Homo sapiens: one gene and its partners. The protein of the gene in region 1 purifies or fractionates together with the protein of each later gene. This does not show direct contact. Each region holds a gene or a part of one and is shown on either strand. Other genes may lie near its edges.

Evidence for each region. Proteins that work in one complex are often made in the same cells at the same time.
Region 2: the proteins of SLC16A11 (region 1) and EMB purify together in Homo sapiens (co-immunoprecipitation; 4 studies listed by BioGRID and IntAct, with this or other methods). This does not show direct contact.
Region 3: the proteins of SLC16A11 (region 1) and UFSP2 purify together in Homo sapiens (affinity purification with mass spectrometry; 2 studies listed by BioGRID and IntAct, with this or other methods). This does not show direct contact.

What each region holds. Positions count from the first base shown.
Region 1 is NC_000017.11:7,041,121-7,048,141, forward strand, and holds SLC16A11 (monocarboxylate transporter 11), read right to left. Parts: upstream 2,973-7,021; 5' UTR 2,655-2,972; exon of another isoform or gene 2,400-2,654; 5' UTR 2,394-2,399; coding exon 2,192-2,393; intron 2,121-2,191; exon of another isoform or gene 1,954-2,120; coding exon 1,810-1,953; intron 1,644-1,809; coding exon 876-1,643; coding exon of another isoform or gene 811-875; exon of another isoform or gene 789-810; coding exon 559-788; 3' UTR 501-558; downstream 1-500. UniProt on the Homo sapiens protein: Proton-linked monocarboxylate transporter. It catalyzes the transport of pyruvate across the plasma membrane.
Region 2 is NC_000005.10:50,438,284-50,445,246, reverse strand, and holds the start of EMB (embigin precursor), read left to right. Parts: upstream 1-3,958; 5' UTR 3,959-4,095; coding exon 4,096-4,207; intron 4,208-6,963. UniProt on the Homo sapiens protein: Plays a role in the outgrowth of motoneurons and in the formation of neuromuscular junctions.
Region 3 is NC_000004.12:185,422,960-185,430,137, forward strand, and holds the start of UFSP2 (ufm1-specific protease 2), read right to left. Parts: upstream 3,006-7,178; 5' UTR 2,910-3,005; coding exon 2,907-2,909; intron 1-2,906. Other genes in the region: CFAP96 (cilia-and flagella-associated protein 96), read left to right, coding at 6,453-6,552. UniProt on the Homo sapiens protein: Thiol-dependent isopeptidase that specifically cleaves UFM1, a ubiquitin-like modifier protein, from conjugated proteins, such as CD274/PD-L1, CYB5R3, DDRGK1, MRE11, RPL26/uL24, TRIP4 and RPL26/uL24.

The DNA.
Region 1 (7,021 bases):
AAGATCGCGCCACTGCACTCCAGCCTGGGCAACAGAGGGAGACTCTGTCTCAAAAAAAAAAAAAAAAAAAAAAAGAAGGAAAGAAAAGAAATTGAGAGAATGCTGAGGACACAGGGTATAGATGTGTGAATAGCTTTGATAGAGCTGAAGTCTGGGCCTAGGATTCTTGTATTTCCCTCAGGCCCATAGAAGGAGATTGAAATGCAGGGAAGAGTTAAGTCTGGGAGGTCTGGGAACTAGGGTAAGGGACATGAAGATGGGGCAGATAGCACCCACTAGCAACCCGCCCCCAACCCCAGCAACACACTGAAACTGGCTGCCAGACAACTTCGCAAAGATTCCCTGTTACGGCCAGGACTTGGGCAAAGAGAAATGGATTGGCTGGACAGTCACCCTTCTTCATACCCAGGGCCTTCTGGGATCCTGTTCCTTTGAACCAGCCTTTCTGGCTGTCTTATGTAGAATATTTTCAGGGTCCTAGATTGGTGAACAGTTGGAGGTTTCAGGAAAACCCGATAAAAATTCTTTATTGGGGGAGGGGCTCAAACAAGAAAATAATCAACAAGTGGTGTCCAGAGTGGAGCCAGGGCCTCCTGGGGACAGCAAGACTGCCTGGGGAGCGGGAAGCAGCTCCCCCGTCTCTGGGGGAGGCGTGGCTGGAGGGGAGGCTGGACCACAGGAGGGCAGCGCCCTGGGCAACCCTATGTAGATGAAGCTGCCGGAGAGGATCAAAGAACCAGACAGGAGGAAAGAGGCGGTGAAGTCTCCTGTCTCATCCCTTAGGAAGCCTGAGGAGATGGGTAAGGGCATTTAGAAGCCTCGAACCCCAGGGGCAGAGGATAGTTGTAGGCAGATCTGTGAGCTCAGGTCCTTACCTGACAGGGGAGGGCCCAGGAGCCCCCCGAGGCTCATCAGCATCATCACCAGCCCTGTGGCCTGCACCACACCTCCGACGCCCACCAGCCCGGGGAGTACACCGAAAACCAGCGGGGCGTAACTCCCCGCGCTCAGCCCATAGGCCACAGCCGCGGCCAGCAGGGGACCCCCCCAGCTCTCTTCGCCGCCCACCACGGGCACCAGCCCCACCACCCACAGCCCCAGCCCAGTCAGAGCCCCGAATACGGCCAGCAGCCGCGGGAGGGGCACCCAGCCTTGGTCTGCCAGCCACCCGCAGACCAGCCGGGCGCCCGCATCCCCCATCGCAGCCACGGCCACCACCAGCGCTGCTCCGTATCCCCCCAGGCCCCGGTCTAAAGCGTGGGGAGCCAAGTGCACGTAAGGAACGAAGTACCCGCCCCCAACCAGGGCTGTGCCTAGAGCAAAGATTGAGAAGGCCCGGCGTGTGAACAGACTCAGGCCGAGGGCAGCTAGGGGACTACGCGGTGGGGCTGGGGGGTCTCCAGGAAGGACCAGGGGTAGCAGCAGGGCGCCACAGGGGGTGAGGTGGAGGGTGATCGCGCCGAGGAGGAGCAGAGCGCCCCGCCAGCCGAAAGTATCGAGAAGAAGCTGCAAGGCGGGCGCCAGGAGCAGCGAGGAGGCCCCGTTGCCGGTGAGCGCCAGCCCCACCGCCAAGACTCGACGGCGGGAGAAGTAACGCGAGAGGGTGCCTAGGGCGGGGGCGAACACCAGGGCCCAACCAAAGCCTGCGAATGAATAGGAGGGGATGGGGGCCGGCACTGGGGACGCCCGCCCCAGCATTCCCAGCCCGGCTCTCCGCACCAGGCCCCCGCCTCGTTCGCTACCCCAGATCCCAACAAGCTCCTGTCACCTCCTTCACCCTGAATGACCCGGGCATCCCACTTCCCTCACCAGCGAGGAGGCCCAGGCCGAGGTAGAGATGCAGCAGATCGCTGGCGAAAGCCGAGAAGACGAAGCCCAGCGAGGCGAGGACGCCCCCAACCATCACCACGGGGCGGGCCCCCCAGCGCGTGCTCAGGGCGCTGCCCACGGGGCCTGAAAGGGGGCGGAGTCAACGGAAGACACGCCCCCGGGCCCCCAAACTCTCTCCAACACTTCTCATTGGCTGTTTGCCTCCCTCGAACTAATGGTTCTTCTCCTTGACCTCAAGATGCACTCTTTTCTAGAGCCGGTTGCCCTTTCTCAGGTTGTCGGGTAATCAGGTGGGTCTCCCATCCCTCCACTCACGGCTCCTCCTCCCCGTTCCTGTCTCCCGCCTCAGGGCCCCCCTCACTGGCTGCCTGCTGCACGGCCAGGGCCAGGGCGCTGATCCACGCAGTGTCCTGGGCGCTTCGGTCAAAGTGCTCGGCAAGGTCAGGGAAGGCAAGGCCCAGCGAGCGCAGCAGCCCGTAGGACAGCCCGTTTATCGCGAAGGCTGCGGCCGCCACCACCCAGCCCCAGCCCCCATCCGGGGGTCCGGCGGGCTGGGGGGTCATCGCCGTCTGCGGGGTGGGGAAACATCTGTGAGAGAAGCCTCCACGCCTGTGCTTCCGCTGGGGAGCTGGCATCCCTGAGATCCAGCCTCTGGCTGCTCGCCCGGGGTGGGCCCGTCACTCCGAGCGCGATGGCGCGGGGCGGAGGGAGCCGGAGCCTGGCCTAGGGCTGGAACTCCCGGGTCCGCGCGAGGTACGGGGACGGGGACAGCCAGATCCCCAGGCCCGAGGTTCCCCGTCCCACGCACACTCCTTCCCCCTTACCCGACCTCTCCGGGCGGTGCGGGGAGGGGAAGGGTGAGGAAGGGCTGGGCCCGGCTTTCTCTCTGCTTCCCAGGCGGGCGGGGGCCCCGAAGGGGAGCGAGGGCAGCGATGGAGCCCAACTTGGACGGGCTCTCTCGGTAAACAGAGATCACCACAGGGGCCTGAGCCACCTGGGACGCGGGGTGTACGGAGGGCGGGGGCGAGCTGAAACAGCCAATCCGGCAAGCCGCGCGTGAGGCCAGACGCCAGTCCCACGGGGATTGAATTATGTACACACACAACCCCCAGGCCCGGGGGAGGGGGGAGCGGCGAGAAATGAATGCAGAGGGGCCCTGCCCTACTCACACGCATGCACCTGCCGCCTGCTGCGCGCAGGGGAGACACGTGGATTGCAAACCCCAGCGAGCCCAGGGTCCACCGCCAACGCGTGGAAATAGGGATGGTCCCCAAAACCTGAGGGGATGAGTAGTTTTGTTCTCAGGAACGTTGCCGAGGACCAGGTAAATCTCGGATATCAATCAGATCACAGACCTCCACCAAGTGCCAGCTCTGTGCTTAGAATAACAGACCCCCAGGCCGGGCGCGGTGCAAGCCTGTAATCCCAGCACTTTGGGAGGCCGATGTGGGTGAATCACCTGACGTCAGGAGTTCGAGGCCAGCCTGACCAACATGGCGAAACACCATATCTACTAAAAATACAAAAAAAATTAGCCGGGTGTGGTGGCGGGCGCCTGTAGTCCCAGCTACTTGGGAGGCTGAGGCGGGGAATCGCTTGAACCCGGGAGGCAGAAGTTGCAGTGAGCCAAGATCATGCCACTGCACTCCAGCCTGGGTGACAGAGAAAGACTCTGTCTCAAAAATAAATAAATAAACAAAAATAAAATAAATAAAATAAAATAACAGGTCCTCAAGGACAGAGGGATGAAACACGACTCCCTCAATGTGAAGACCTGCAGTGTACCAGGCACCGTTTACACATGCTATCACTTCATCTTATGATAACCCTATGAAGAAGGTGTCGCTTTTCTTTTTTTTTTTTTTTAGATGGAGTTTCACTCTGTAGCCCAGGCTGGAGTACAGTGGCGAGATCTCGGCTCATTGCAACCTCTGCCTCCTAAGTTCAAGCCATTCTCCTGCCTCAGCCTCCTGAGTAGCTGGGATTACGGGCGCCTGCCACCACTCCCAGCTAATTTTTGTATTTTTTAGTAGAGATGGGGTTTCGCCATGTTGGCCAGGCTGGTCTGGAACTCCTGACCTCAGATGATCCGCCCACCTCGGCCTCCCAAAGTGCTGGGATTACAGGAGTGAGCCAACGCGCCTGGCCGATGTCGTGCCTCTTTTATAGATGCAGTAACTGAAGCTCTCAGGGAAAAAATGGTATGGATATTTGAATTTAGGTCTGTCCAACTGTGGACCTACAAGGAGAACAATCCCAGGACTGAAACAAAATCTGGCACAGTTAAGGGAAAGATCCTGGATACAGCTTGAAGCAAACTGCCCTGGAAAGGGTGGAACCATTGCAGGGACAGAAAACTTATGAGTCTAAAATAAGGGGTCACTGGGAATAGAAAGGATTCTTGAGATCAGAATCTCTAAACACTTAGGTTAGAATTTTATTTTTTATTATGTATGTATGTATGTATGTATGTATGTATGTATGTATGTATGTGTGTGTGTATTTATTTATAGAGACAGGGTCTTGTCCAGGCTGAAGTGTAGTACTGCCATTATGGCTCACTGCAGCCTCCACCTCCCAGGCTCAAGCAATACTCCACCTCAGCCTCCCGAGTAGCGAGGACTACAGGCTCCACACCACCATGCCTGGCTAAATTTGTTCATTTTTTTTGTAGAGAGGGGGTCACAGCATGTTGCACAGGCTGGTCTCAAGCTCCTGGACTTAAGCAATCCTTCCACCTCGGACTCCCAAAGTGCTGGGATTACAGTCTACCATGCCTGGCCAGGTTACAATTTTAAAAGCAAAGTAAAAAATCAGGTCATTGAAGCCAGGTATTGATTTTTTGAAAAACTTTATAGAAAATGTCCTTTTTTGATAGGTTGACATTCTTTACCTCAGCTCTTTGAATTCAGAGATGTGTTCTTTGGTTTAATTATTAAACAATATGATAGAACATTCAGCAACTTAAGTTTGGAGCATGCATCCATTGAGCCACATGATGGCAGTGTTTCCTAATTATTGGGAAAGAATCTGCACGTAAAGACAAGAAAAACAGCTTCTTAAGGAGCAAAACTGTAAACATAAAAGACACAGCATGACTATAGGCAATGGCTCTCCATTGCCTATAGACGGGAAAAATTACATTTCTCTATTTGTACAGGTCTTTTACAATAATCAAAGGTAGACCTAGGTTACCGTTCCAAACCATCTCCCCTCTCTCCCTTTTGCCAGCCTCCCATCAGCCACTGTCTTCTCTGCTCTGTGGACATGCCTAGCTTTTTCTCACTCCTTAATTTTTGCATATGTCATGCTCTCTGCTTGAAACGTCCTGTTGTTCATGAAGGTCCTGACAGACACACCTTAGGAAAGTGGCCCCACCGGTTTCCCCAGCCTGGAGTGCTGTTATGAAAGCCACCAGGGAGGCGGAGCCAGCAGGTCCTCAGCTACCGGGGAGGGCAGGGATCCCGCTTCCTGAGAAGGCTGCTGAAGACTCTGCTCCAAGCTAAACGAATCACTGTCTCCCCATGGTGACGCAGAAATGCAGGACAGTCAGAGCGAAGACCGGGCCCTCCGCATCTGGGAGTTGTGCTAAGTGATGCTGCGCACCTTCGCAGGATGCTTACGAAGCCAGAAGGGTATCCCAGAGCCTGGGACTAGGGCTGTGAAAGAGCACATTCCTCTTCTACCTCAGGCTCCCTATATTCTTAGCAAAACTTGTCATCTTTTGCTCACGGAGGTAAAATAGCACAGAGATTAGGAGAATGGACTCCCAAGCTAGATTTCTTGAGGTTGAATGCCAGCTCTACTGTAGGGTCTAGCCCTACGGGGCTTGGCGGGTGTTTTCCCCGTGTGCGGAGATGAGAGATTGTAACAAATAAAGACACAAGCCAAAGAGATAGAAGAAAAGACGCTGGGCCCTGGGAACCACTACCATCAAGACGCGGAGACCGGTAGTGGCCCCGAACGGCTGGTTGCGCTGATATTTATTGCATACAAGACAAGGGGGCAGGGTAAGGAGGGTGAATCTTCTAAGTGATTGACAAGGTGCAGCAAGTCACGTGATCACAGGACGGGAGGGCCCTTCCCTTTTAGGTAGCCGAAGTAGAGACAGAAGGCAGCATACGTCAGCGTTTTCTTCTATGCACTGATAAGAAAGATCAAAGACTTTAGACTTTCACTATTTCATCTACCGCTCTGTACTACGAACTTCAAAGAGGAACCAGGAGTACGGGAGGAACATGAAAGTGGACAAGGAGCGTGAGCATTGAAGCACAGCCCCACAGGGAGGGGTTTAGGCCTCCGGATGACTGCGGGGAGGCCTGGATAATATCCAGCCTTCCACAAGAAGCTGCTGGAGCAGAGTGTTCCCTGACTCCTCCAAGGAAAGGACACTCCTTTTCGCGATCTGCTAAGTGATGGGTGTCTTCCCAGGCACTAGCGTTACCGCTTGACCAAGGAGCCCTCAAGCGGCCCTTATGCGAGCGTGACAGAAGGTTCACCTCTTGCCTTCTAGGTCACTTCTCACAATGTCCCTTCATCACCTGACCCTATACCTGCCGGTTATTCGTAGGTTATATTAGTAATGCAACAAAAAGTAATATTAAAAGCTAATGATTAATAATGTCTATAATAATGATTGATAATTGTCCATGATCATCTCTATATCTCATTTGTATTATGACTATTTTTATTCTATTTTCTTTATTACACTGAAACAGTTTGTGCCTTCAGTCTCTTGCCTCGGCATCTACGTAATCTTTCGCCCACACTCTACCACTTAGTAACTATATGATTATGAGCAAGTGTGACTCAACCTCTCTGTGCCTCGGTTTCCTCATCTCTACAATGGGGGTAATAACAGTAGCTACCTGATGGGTTGTTATAAGAATTAAATGAGTCACTGTGAATACACATATAAGTAAGGAACTTAGAACAGTGCCAAAGTATACGTGTTAGAGCTCATTGCCGCTATTTTCTTTCTTTTTTTTTTTTTTTCTTTTTTTTTTGAGACAGAGTCTTGCTCTATTGCCCAGGCTGGAGTGCAGTGGTACAATCTAGGTTCACCACAACCTCTGCCTCCCAGGTTCAAGTGAATTCTCCAGCCTCAGCCTCCCAGGTAGCTGAGATTACAGGTGCCCGCCACCACACTCAGCTAATTTTTTTGTATTTTTATTAGAGACGGGGTTTCACC
Region 2 (6,963 bases), on another chromosome or scaffold:
TTAGTAGAGACGGGGTTTCACCATATTGGCCAGGCTGGTCTCGAGCTCCTGACCTTGTGATCTGCCTGCCTCAGCCTCCCAAAGTGCTGGAATTACAGGCGCGAGCCACCACGCCTGGCCAGCCCACACAGTATCTCTTCAGCAATATTCAGTAGGTTAGGGGAGTCAAAGAGCCCACCCAACTCAAGGGGAGAAAACAAAGGACCCTTATTCCCCCTTTATACGCTTCATGATGAGAGTATCAAAGTGCTTGTTGCAATATTTATTTCACCAAGGAGGAAAAGGTCAATTTGGACCAGAAAGGTCAGAAAAAGTTTCCCCCGTCTGGGTATCTCCAATTCTTCTATCCCTGGTTCACCTCAGAGTATTGCAGTTCTGAGAACCAGTGCATTCTGGATTCATTGTAGAACTTTGATTCTCTACTTGACTGTATGTCAGAATCACCAGAGAGCTTGAAAAATCCTGATACCTGGATCTTTTCCCGCAAAACTCTGGTTCATTTGGCTTGGGATTCAGTGTGGGCATTAAGGAGTTTCATCAGCTCTCCATGTAGCTTTAAATGTGATTTTAAGCTGGTTAAAAACCACAGCTTTAAAATGATATGGCCTAGACAGTGCACTGTTAGGTAAATACTTATTCCATAGGCATCAGGGTTAAGTTGATATGCAGAGAAGATCTCTAAAGAGAAAAAAAAAAAAAAAGGTAGGAAACAAATGAAAGTGGAATAAATGAAGGTGTAAATCAATAAGATGAATGGGGGAGGGGATGTCACTCTACGTATATGGTATAAGTTCTGCTCTTTTAGCTCCACGTAAGCTAAAATTGTGGAATAATGTACAAGACAAAAGTTATGAAGTTAGCATCGAATTTAAGCCAGAATTAAAAATTGTCAGGCACTCTCAGCTTGTTTTCTAGATTCGGTATTGATCTCTGCGAAATTCAGTTTTCTCTTTGCCAAAGGATATTGTGAGGTTTACTGGATATTTTTGACCTAGATGTATAGGCCTACATACTTGGACACAGGTTGTCTGTTAACCTAAGACTTTGAGTCAAATTTTAATAATAAGAATAGTTATAAATGTATAGCCCTATGAGTTAGCATTTTTTTAGTTCCAGCTGAAAAAAGAAAAAAGAATTGTCTAGAACATTTTTCTCTCTTCTGGGTATCCCCAGTACTTCTATCCCTGAGTTGCAATCCACTAATATTATTATTTATTTGATGCTCAATTTGTCCCAGATTTGTCCAGTGGGAACCCCTTTAAATGTCCTTAAAGGTAAAAACTGCCAGCATGTTCTACTGAGATATGGACTAACAATGTCAGACATATGTGGGTGCTTGAATAGTATTTGCTTCAAAAATATTTATTACTAGAAAGCTGCTGTGTTTGGGGTGAGAGGTTAGTAGGGAAGGGGGTTCATAAAGGGAATGCAAAAGCCACGTCCTCTGGAAGTTAAAGGATCATTTTAAATGATTCTACTGCAAACATTTTTCAAAAGATAAACATGACCCATTTCTCCAATTTGTGTCATGTAATAGTAATAATAATGATATTTAAATACTCCCACTGATATGTCCTTTACAAAGATATATTATATGTCTTATTTAATCAAAAAACCTTAAAAGAGTCCCTGTACCTAATTTTATTCCAGGACTCAAACTGTGTCAGCATGTCATTCAGTGCAAATCAGACATTTAGATGCATAGGCTATGCTGTCAGTAGTTCTGAACTTTCATAGACATTTCCAATTAGCTCGGAGAGACAACTGGATATTGTGTTTAAGCACTGTGTTTAGGAAAACAGGCACTGGATGGACCAATGCCAAATTTCCTGCTCTGCTGCTTAACTAAGTATGTGTAATTACTTGGGCAATTACTTAAGCAATTACTTGGGCAATTACTTAAGCCAATCCCCAATTTCTTCGTCTTGAGCCCAGAAGGTCAAGGCTGCAGTGAGCCGTGAATGTGCCTCTGCCCTCCAGCCTGAGCGACAGAGTGAGAATTCCCCAGGAGTGCAGAGGTTCTCAGAACTGCAATACTCTGAGATGAATTTTGAAAGGTGAATCAGGGATAGAAAAAGTTATATAGGGAAGGCAGTCAATAAGCTTGTTTTAAAGGATATGGAGCATTTGAAAAAGTGGAATGTACATAAGGCTGGAAATATCAAATATCTAAATATAGAACAGGAACAGTGATGAAAAGACTTTCAAAATGCTTAGCAAAATGAGAATTATATTTCTTTCTCAACTCTTTTGTTCCAACAGCAAAAGCAACAGTGGGGATCAGCATCAACTTGGGTAAGTAAGTTTTTCTGGTCATAAATAGGCTGATTCAACTGAAAAAAATGTTTCTTTAAGAAGGGTGAATTTGTGTCTAAGGATTTTATGAGACTAACTGGGAAAAGTCAGTCAGAGTTTAGTTTGAGGTGAGAAGTGCTTACTGTTGACACTCTACCTAATTATAGGGAAATGTGTGCAGTTAGTCCTGAGACCAGATGCAGGGTTGAAAGAAAGAGGTGTGATGTAGCAGCCATTGATTAGGCAATTTGGGTTTAGCAAGCCCAGTCAATGCCCTCAGAGGGTCAACAGTGTATAAGATTTAGTCCTTGAAGGCATCTTTTAAAGTTTCATTCAGAAGATTTTAATAATTTTGACCATAATTTTCTGAGAAGAGGCTTTTCTGAGATTTGTCATTCACAGATAAACAGTTGTCTAATTTGTGTGTGTGTGTGTGTACATGTGTGCATGCGTGCATTTGTGCATGTGTGCCTATCTAGCCTCTTTTGAACACAATGGTAGATTGGCACCTGGTAGATAATATTGTTGAATGAATTGTATTATTCATATTATCTCACTGCCAATTTGAAGAATCTACATTCTGTTTCCAAAGTTTTGTGCATATAATACTAAACCAGAAACAGACGTGTTTTAGTAATACGTACCAATTACAAATTAACCATTCCTGCCTGGAATAAACACAGGTTTTGTTAAATAGCTCAATTTTCAAAATTTGTCTCATGTTATTTCCAATCCTTTTTTTTTTAACGCCGATATATTTTGAATTTACGAATGTGAAAGCTGAACTTCAAAAAAATAAAGGGAGAGGAAACAAAGCTCGTGAAAAATTTTAAAAATATCTTTTAATGCGTTATAACATCCTGGAGAGAAATCAAATCAATGTGTTTCAATGTTACAATATAGATTTCTCCTCCCCTCCCGGATAAAGCACTAATTTATTTAATTTGGTTCAGAGCACTGAATATTCCAAGCTACAGCCTTGTGGGTAAGAGCATTATCTTAAAGAGTGTTCGGATTTAACAAAGGTCAATGTCTTGTGCAGTTTACATAGTATCTACTCTCAGTAGCTTTTGCTTCTTGAGCTCTAGGTGGCTCCTCAGAAGCTGTTAGGCTTAACAAACAAAAATAAAGTAAAATCAGACACGGTATGGGGCCTTGGGACTCTAAAACCTTCATCCGGAGAAAATCAGTTAAGCCTTCAGAGACTAGAAGAGAGAATGTGTGTGATTGGTAGGCAAAGCAAAGAAAGATTAACACAAGTTGTCTGGCAGCTGGATAAAACCTTACACCTGCGCAAAAATAAGCCTCCCTCGTAAGAAAGCCCAAAGATGTCCGGGGTCCGGGAGGAGAAAAGTGTTTCTCATCTGTCCCATCAAAGCAAATTAGTGAAACCTGCCTCAGGTGAAGTGCAAAGGCCAGTCTGTAGGCAGAGTTTCGACCTCTCCCCACGAGATTGGCTAGACATCACCTGCCCAAGCTCTCTCCCGACCTGCTAGAGCCGAGAGGGCGGAGGCCGGAGAGGCTGCAGCCGGGAAGTAGCACCGCCACCGCACATCCGGGAACGCCAGCAGCCGGCTGAGGGCTGCATAACTGATGGAGGGCCGGGCGCGGTAAGAGCGTCTCGGGGGAGTGGGGCAAGGCGGCCGGGCCCCTCCCATTCCGCCTTTTCTTCAGCGTCCTACCCGCGGCACTGGCTGCGAGCGCCGGGCCACCTGCGAGTGTGCGCAGGGACTCTGGACACCCGCGGCGGCGAGCTGAGGGAGCAGTCTCCACGAGGACCCAGGCGGACCCTCTGGCGCCATGCGCGCCCTCCCCGGCCTGCTGGAGGCCAGGGCGCGTACGCCCCGGCTGCTCCTCCTCCAGTGCCTTCTCGCTGCCGCGCGCCCAAGCTCGGCGGACGGCAGTGCCCCAGGTGTGATGGGTACAGGGTCCAGGGTAGGGAGGGCGGAGGGCGCGCGAGGCTCGGGTCCCCGCGGGCAGAGGGCATCGCCGGCGCGCCGGGCAAGGGTGGCGGGGAGAGGCGCGGGGATGCTGGTAAGGGCGGGTGGGAGAGTCGGCGGCGGCCTCCCATTAGCTACGTTTGTGTCACCTAAGCTGAACCCTGAAACTGCTGCGGCTCGCGTTCCTGCGCTCTTTGGGGCGAGTCTTGAACGAACAGCGCCCCGCGAGTCGGGCGCGTAGGTAACAGGGCAGAGTCTGGTTTTTCCTAGGAAGAAGGCAGTGGGGTGTGTGGGTGGTTGCAGGGACCAGCTAGCGACTTGGCTTGGGCAAATATGGCATGAATTTTGAAAGCCACATTTCCCCAAGGCCTACTCCCTTTTCTTGATTCGAGAGTAAGGCTCGAGTATCACCTCCTTCCCTCCTCTTGGCAGGTGGGTTGGCTTTGAGGATTTTTTTTTTTTTTTTTTTTTTTTTTTTGAGACGGAGTTTTACTCTTGTTGCCCAGGCTGGAGTGCAATGGCGTGATCTCGGCTCACCGCAACCTCCTCCTCCCGGGTTCAAGCGATTCTCCTCTGTCAGCCTCCAGAGTAGCTGGGATTACAGGCATGCGCCACCACGCCGGGCTAATTTTATATTTTTAGTAGAGACTGGGCTTCTCCACATTGGTCAGTCTGGTCTCGAACTCCCAACCTGAGGTGATCCGCCCGCTTCGGCCTCCCAAAGTGCTGGGATTACAGGCGTGAGCCACCTCACCTTGCCGAGGATGTTTTTTTAGAGCTGAGTAGGGGAAAAAACATCATAACCAACTAGCCAACCAAAGATCCACAACTTACAGGATAACGTGTGTGTATCTTCATTTTACACCGTGGTCTTTGAAAACAAAATGTGTGTGTGCATGTGTGTGTGTGTATGTGTGAGATTTTTGCTTGTTGTTTTATTGTTTAAGACACTTTGACAGAGGGATTACGTGCAAAACATTAACAAAGCCAACACGAAAGTTGCCATTCTACCTTCACCTGTTTATAATTACTTTTCATATTGAAAGGATTCCATCCAACCTATTGCAAGTTTCTGTGTCATAAATGTTACCAGCCAGTAAGGGTAATAAAAGACCACCTCTCAAGCTGGTAAATATTGGCCACCAGTAACTAAAATTGGGACATTATTCTGCAAAAAGTTTTCAAACTCTCATGGGAATTTATTTTCATGGGCTTGTAAGATGTGGAATTTTTGTAACACACCATAGAGAAGGAAGGATAATCAAAAGGTAAGACTATTAATTTTTATAAATGCCTTTTAAAACGTCTAGTTGTTAACAACTTGGACAGAACATCGTGGGTTCCTTCGCAGATTTCCTTGTGCCACATCTCTTTTCCATAATACCACTTATAAAGAATTGTCCAGGCCTGTAATCCCAGCACTTTTGGGCGCTGAGGTGGGAGGATGGCTGGAATCCAGGAGTTCAAGACCACCCCGGGCAACATAGCAAGGTCCCTTCTTTATTAAAAAAAAAAAAAAAAAAATTAAAAGTGCGGTTGTGGTGATGTACACCAGTAGTCCCAGGTGCTTGGGATGCCAAGGCAGAAAGATTGCTTCAGTCCAAAGTTTGAGGCTGCAGTGAGCTATGATGGTGATGGTGCCACTAAGCTCCAGCCTGGGTGACAGTGCAAAACTGTCTCAAAAAAAAAGAAAGAAAAAGAAACAGAATTGTCCAGGACATTTTTCCCCCTTCTGGGTATCTCCAATTCTTCTATCCCTGGTTCACCTCAGAGTATTGCAGTTCTGAGAACCAGTGCATTCTGGATTCATTGTAGAACTTTGATTCTCTACTTGACTGTATGTCAGAATCACCAGAGAGCTTGAAAAATCCTGATACCTGGATCTTTTCCCGCAAAACTCTGGTTCATTTGGCTTGGGATTCAGTGTGGGCATTAAGGAGTTTCATCAGCTCTCCATGTAGCTTTAAATGTGATTTTAAGCTGGTTAAAAACCACAGCTTTAAAATGATATGGCCTAGACAGTGCACTGTTAGGTAAATACTTATTCCATAGGCGTCAGGGTTAAGTTGATATGCAGAGAAGATCTCTAAAGGAAAAAAAAAAAAAAAGGTAGGAAACAAATGAAAGTGGAATAAATGAAGGTGTAAATCAATAAGATGAATGGGGGAGGGGATGTCACTCTATGTATATGGTATAAGTTCTGCTCTTTTAGCTCCACGTAAGCTAAAATTGTGGAATAATGTACAAGACAAAAGTTATGAAGTTAGCATCGAATTTAAGCCAGAATTAAAAATTGTCAGGCACTCTCAGCTTGTTTTCTAGATTCGGTATTGATCTCTGGGAAATTCATTTTTCTCTTTGCCAAAGGATATTGTGAGGTTTACTGGATATTTTTGACCTAGATGTATAGGCCTACATACTTAGACACAGGTTGTCTGTTAACCTAAGACTTTGAGTCAAATTTTAATAATAAGAATAGTTATAAATGTATAGCCCTATGAGTTAGCATTTTTTTAGTTCCAGCTGAAAAAAGAAAAAAGAATTGTCTAGAACATTTTTCTCCTTTCTGGGTATCCCTAATTCTTCTATCCCTGATTCACCTTTCAAAATTCATCTCAGAGTATTGCAGTTCTGAGAACCTCTGCACTCCTGGGGAATTCTCACTCTGTCGCTCAGGCTGGAGGGCAGAGGCACATTCACGGCTCACTGCAGCCTTGACCTTCTGGGC
Region 3 (7,178 bases), on another chromosome or scaffold:
GAGATTCTCCTGCCTCAGCCTCCCATGTAGCTGAGATTACAGGCATACACCACCACGCCTGGCTAATTTTTGTATTTTTAGTAAGGACGGGATCTCAGAATATTGGCCAGGCTGGTCTTGAACTCCTGGCCTCAAGTGATCCGCCTGTCTCGGCCTCCCAAAGTGCTGGGATTGCAGGCGTGAGCCACCGCGCCCAGCTGGCACAGGGATATTTAAAAGTATCCTATGCCCCCATGCCAGTGATTCTAATGTGAATGGTTGAGAACTACTGCTTTAAGACAATCTTTCCAAATTATAATCTTGACAGGTTTAACAATGACAATAAAACATCAACAGTAAAGAACTAGTTTAAGAATGTGACAAGGCACTGAACCTAATATAATACCAGGGAGTCAAGACAATGAGAGGAAACTCATACTGAGGGTGGGATATCAACTGGTGGAATCCTTCAGAGAATATGGCAGTAAGAATCAAAGGTTTATATTCATAGGCTTGATCTAGTGATATGCATTTAGAATCTCAGACTTAGTCTAAGAAAAATCTGAAAAACACACAAAGATTCGGGTACATGGATATTAACCTAACTGCCAACAATAGATTGGTTAAAAAAAATAGGAATATCATATAGCCATAAAAAAATCATGTTTTTGCTGAAAATTAAAAGGCACAGGACAATGCTTACAACTTATAAAGGGAAAAGAGCACTTGCAAAATGGAACTAATCAGTTCTTTACTTGGATCCATATACTGTTTCAGGTAGTTGATGATATATCACAAATGACATGTATCATTGTTTGTGTACACATATATACACACACAGATACACATATTCATACATATATACATACATATATACACACACACACACACGAGAGAAAGAGACAGGAAGGGAGAAAGAGAGCGGGAGATTTCTTTTGGGAAGAGGTTTCAAAAATTTCATGAGACTCTCAAAACATATCTCTCAAACAGGCTGAAGAACCATAGTACACACTAAGACCCCTATTTTGAAATAAATGAATAAGTACTAACATTTACTGAGCTCTTCAAATGTAAAACACAGGCAGGGTGCAGTGGCTCACGCCTGTAATCCCAACACTTTGGGAGGCAGAGGCAGGAGGATCACTTTGAGCCCAGGAGTTAGAGACCAGACTGGGCAACATAGGAAGACCCCCATCTCTACCAAAAAAAAAAAAAAAAATTAGCTGAGTGTGGTGGTCTGCACCTGTAGTCCAGCTACTCGGGAGGTTAAGGTGGGAGGACTGCTTGGGCCGGGGAGGTCAATGCTACAGTGAGCCATGATCACACCACTGCACTCCAGCCTAAGCAACAGAGCAAGATCTTGTCTCCAAAAAACAAAATAAAATAAAACAAAAACATGTAAAAGGCACTATGCTAAACATACATACTTACTCCAATCCTCAGAACAGTATTAAATAGGTACCAATACAGTTTTTCTCATTTTACAAATCCTTTGTCACATTTCTATAAGGGTCACTGTTTTTATTTATTCTAAAATTGTAATCTTTTGAAAGATCATATACCCTTTGTCCCAATTCTACTTCTGAGAATTTATTCTAAGGAAACAATCAAGAAAGTTCAGGACAAATTTAGCTTCATGTTGTCCATTTATTCTACCGTTGTTCATCACAGAAAAATAAATGGAAACCACTTAAATAGCTATTAATAAGAAATCAGTTAAATAAAGAATACTACCAAACAAACTAGTATGTACCCATTTAAATAAAAAATATTTAAAGATACTGAAGATAAAAGTTAGACAGGAAAGAACAAATTTTAACTCTGCTACTTACTGTACAATTTTACACAATTTAACTTATCACTTAAGTCTGTTTCTCTTCTGTAAAACTGGAAAAATACACAACTTCCCAGGGTTGTTATGAAGATTCCACAAGACATCATTCATAAAAGCACTAGTCTTCCTAGACTTCCGAATTAGCTGAGATACTCTCTGAAGAAATAATACTGAGGCTGAGATCTGAAGGGTGAGTGAAGGTGCAATAGCCCATTCCAGGCAGGGCCATCGATGAGTGAAGATCTGCTTAAAAGACCACTTAGGTGACTACCCCAGATGGATAGATCTCAAGGCCAAGGATGGTAAGAGTGGCGACAGTGACAACAGACAGACATTTAGAAGTAGCATCTATAGGACTTGATTATTGACTGCATGTCGGGGAGTTGAGAAGAGGGAGATGTCAAGGATGATTTCCAGGTTTTGGGCAGGCACAACAGGATGTATGGTGGTGCCATCTACAGAGTTGGGGGTTCCTGGAGGAAGAGCAGGTGTGGGCTGTGGGGAAGTGGAAATGCTCAGTTTGGAACTTGCTGAGCTTGAAATACATATGAGCTATCCAAGTGGAGGCACGGTTAGCAGATTTGTGGGTCTGGAGCTCAGAAGAAAGGTCTAACTTAGAGATAAAATTTTAGGAGAACGCATAGGGTGTAAAGCGTCCCTGAAGAGCACCACCATTTAGGATAGGGATTGGAGAACCTTGCTGAGCAATGAGACAGGAGAGAAACCAGGGGAGGGAAATACCACGGGAACTAGGGGAATATAATATCCGAAGAAAGTTGCGCCTGTCCCAGGTTAAGCCCTTCTTGCAAGGCTTCAAAAACGCCGAAGTCTCTCAAAATACTTTCACACAGAGAAGTAGCAGGGGGTGCGTGTCCAAGGTGGCCGAGGCGGGGTGCACACTTGTGTAGGGCACTTTCCCCCCGGCCCAGCGCGGAGACAGGCGAACTGGAGAGCCGCCCTGCCCACGCAGCTCGCAGCTGCCATCTTGGACCCCGGCAGGACCAGCTCCTTTCAGGCGCTGTGAAGCCCGCTCGTGGCGGCTGCCAAAGTCCGGGGAAAAACACAGGGGTCGGTGACGAGCAGAGATACTCACCATGTCCGCGACGTGGCGGTGACACGGGCGCTGACGCCTGCCCAAAAGTTCCGGGGGCCGGCCCTGAAGTGGTGTCACCGCACGGCCCAGGGGCGGGGCCCGGGCGGACCAACTACAACTCCCGACATGCTCGGCGGCATGACGTCACGGAGCGTACCACACCGCAGTCCCTCGCGGACGGCGAGGCGGGGCGGGTAGCCGAAGACTTATGTTTGGTAAATTCTATTAGTTAAGTCTTTTCTGTCCTACAGAAGCTCACACATCCTTCTGTGTGTTCTTCGATGCGGATTCGAATCTCCTCGTATCCTCCCACAGCGTGCTTGGAATGGATTCTCCCGTACCCGGGGCAACACATCACACAATAAACGCCAGCTGTGGTGGAACGTGCAGAGGCGCTGCGCAGCCCAGGCGTGTCGCGCGCTTGGGAACCCTCGCCGCTCCCGCAGCGCAGTTAACGTGGACAAGCTGGGGCAACCTGGACGAGCTGGGGCAACCTGATCTCGGCTGTCGGAGTGGGTGTCCTCAAGAAAGGTGACTTGGTCCTCGCGGACGCCAGGTGTTGCCCCTTAGATACCTGCCACCTCCCAGCCTCCGTTTCCTCTCTGGGAAACAGACTCCTCATCACCTCCTCCAGTTTTCTGCCCCTTCTTCACCTCTCCTGACGCTCCATCCGTACCTTTTGCAAGGGAACGTGCCATAATTCGGCTATGCTCTATTTTCTTGTCTAATAGATTGTAAGCTCCTTGCGGGCAGCATCTATGCCTTCTTAAATCTGTTTCTAGTTTCTACCAGCAAGCTTGCCCCGAAGGGGATTGCAGAATATCTGTTAAATAAGTGAATGAATAATTTTGTAAATGTTGCTCAATAAGAGTTAAGTAGTGGCGGGCCGGGCGCGGTGGCTGACGCCTGTAATCCCAGCACTTTGGGAGGCCAAGGCAGACGCATCACCTGCGCTCACGAGTTCGAGGCCAGCCTGGGCAAAATGGTGAAACCCCTGTCTCTACTAAAAATACCAAAAAAAAAAAAAAAAAAAAAAAAAAAAAAAAAAAATAGCCGGGCATGGTGGCGGGTGCTTGTAGTCCCAGCTACTCGGGAGGCTGAGACAGGAGAATCGCTTGAACCCGGGAGGCGGAGGCTGCAGAGAGCCAAGACAGCTCCACTGCACTCCTAGCCTGGGCAACAGAGAGAGACTCCGTCTCAAAAAAAAAAAAAAATTAATAAGAAAAAAGTTAAGTGATGGGAAAGTTCTAGGCAAGAATTTCTTCCCTCCCTCCTCCCTGGCTCGCTTGTGTGCCGGGAGCTGCGCAGATGCGGGGATACCGTGAGAGGGAGGAACCTGTCTCAGCTCCTGCCCTTGTGCCGTGGAGCTTTGAAATATAAGGTAAATGAAAGTACTAAATCTTGACTGAAGTTTGGTTTTAAAGCATCTCTGATTAATGGAAGAGGTAGGATGTGGGGAAGGGCGTTGTATTTAGTTATGTTTCAGTTTAAAATGAATCTTCACTTGCCCCTTTGGTGTTACGTATTAGCAATGATTCATGCTCAGGTGAGCCAGTTTCAGGCAGGCTTGCAGAGAGGCACTCAAACAGCTTGCTTTAAATTTAAGGTAAAAGGCCGGGCGCGGTGGCTCACGCCTGAAATCCCAGCACTTTAGGAGGCCGAGGCAGGTGAATCACTTGAGGTCAGGAGTTTGAGACCAGCCTGACCAACATGGTGAAACCCCGTTTCTACTAAAAATACAAAAATCAGCCGGGCGTGGTGGCAGGTGCCCGTAGTCCCAGCTACCTGGGAGGCTGCGGCAGGAGAATTCCTTGAACCCAGGAGGCGGAGGTTGCAGTGAGCTGAGATAGCGCCTCTGCATTCCAGCCTGGGCGACAGAGCGAGACTCCATCTTAATAAGCAAAGAAATAAATAAATTTAAGGTAAAAGGTTCTTACCAGCCGGGCGCGGTGGCCCACTCCTGTAATCCCAGCACTTTGGGAAGCCGAGGCAGGTGGATCACCTGAGGTCAGGAGTTCAAGACCAGCCTGGCCAACATGGTGAAACCCCGTCTCTACTAAAAAATACAAAGTTAGCTGGGCGTGGTGGCAGACGCCTGTAATCCCAGCTACTTGGGAGGCTGAGGCAGAAGAATCGCTTGAACCTGGGAAGCGGAGGTTGCAGTGAGCCGAGATCGCGCTATTGCACTCCATCCTGGGCTACAAGAGCGAAACTCTGTCTCAAAAAAAAAAAAAAAATGGTTCTTACTTTGGATTACAAACTGTGAGGACTAACCCAATGTTTGTTTTCTTCACTTATGTATGCCCAGTGCTTAGCTCATAATTGGTGCTTTAAAAACTTTAGAATGGGATAGAGGTAAGTATTCTTAGCTCCTTGGGCCTCTTCCTTTTTAAAAATAACATGTCTACTATTAGAAATTAATTTCTGGCCGGGCGCGGTGGCTCATGCCTGTAATCCCAGCGCTTTGGGAGGCCGAGGTGGGTGGATCACTTGAGGCCAGGAGTTCGAGACCAGCCTGGCCAACATAGTTAAACCCTGTCTCTACTAAAAATACAAAAACAGCTGGGCATGGTGGCGCGTGTCTGTAATCCAGCTACTCAGGTGGCTGAGGCAGGAGAATCGCTTGAACCTGGGAGGCGGAGGTTATAGTGAGCCAAGAACATGCCACTGCACTCCAGCCTGGGACTGTCTAAAAAAAAAAAAAACAACAACAACAACAAAAAAAAAAGAGACTCTGTCTTAAAACAATTAATTTCTAAATAAAGAGTTGCATGTTTAATATTTCACCTTTGTTTGAAGTGGTCATTTCCAAAGAAAGCTCAGAGTTGAAGTATACCTGTTAACAAATACTCAGAATTCATTGTAGAATTTTTGTTTTTGTTCTCGTTTTTATCTTGCCTAAATAATTGTTCTCTTCCCCATTCCCTTTATAATTTTGCCAGTGACACACTTATTATGTTTATTTAAACTTGAAAAAAACCTCAAGAGTTGTAGGGTAATACCTCAATGTGTTGTACATCCTGAAAAGCTGTTATATTTTCAACATAAGGGACAATGCAGGATGCTGAAATCATTGTATTTAAACTGTAAAAATGTCTGCCTTATATAATTATGATTTTAAAATCTACCCTGAACTTCTCAAAAGAAGGATTTGTTTATAATACACCGTACAGTAATAATTTTATCATTTCCAACAGATAAATGGCAGTGTAATCGATGAGATCTTGTACATTCCTTTGTAATTTGTGAGCACTTCATACGGAGAGTCAAGGGGGAGGGCTCATCTGGAGAATTTTGAATCCCAGTATTCTCCCCCACCCCGCAGAGTAGGTTCTTTCCCCATGGAGTATGAGGCTATTGTTTTGTAGTAAACCTTAAACTCTCAGACTGAAAGTAATTAGAACTGGAAATTAGTAACCACTTTTTTCTAAACTTTTCCCCTTTATTTTTATTTTCAATGTAAAGTAGGACTTTGCTATAAAACACGTGACCCTAGGGAAACTTTTGAAGTTAGCGGTATAGAGAGTACCACCACCAGACGCCACCATGCCTGCGGAAGGAGGAAAAACGGACATGGAAAGGATTGGCCTCTTTAGTGAGATGGAATATATTACTGTGGGTGATAAATATGTGTCACAATTTAATCGTAAGTATATTTGCTTTTCTCTATGGACGAATAGTGGGTATTTTCTATATAAAATTTAGAATTTAATATTTAAGTCAAATGATTTTTTAATGGTTTATATTTTAAAGCATTTAGTTCTAAAGTTTGTTAACGTGTAAAATTTCAATGAAGTTAAGCGATATCATTTATTTATTTATTTAGAAACAGGATCTTTGTTACCCAGGCTGGAGTGCCAGTGGCCTGATTATAGCTCACTGCAGTCTCAAACTCCTGGGCTCAAGGGTTCCTCCCATCTTCAGCCTCCTGAGTCTACAGGCACACACTACCATGCCCAGCTAATTTTTAAATACTTTGTGGAGTAGGGCGGGGGAGCTCTCACTATGTTGCCCAGGCTGGTCTTGAACTCTTGACCTCAAGAGACCCTCCCCACTCAGCGTGCCGTAGTGCTGGGGTTAAGAGGCATGAGCCACAGCACCCAGCAAGAAGGTGATTTTATGAGAATAGGAATCTCGTTTTATTAGGGTATTCTATCCTAATTTATTGTCCTCATAGGTAATTTGATTTCTTTTCAAAGGTGCCTGGCAGTTTTCTCCCAGAATATTTTGGTTAGATGGGACACTCCCCTATGCAAACAGCATTTACATTTG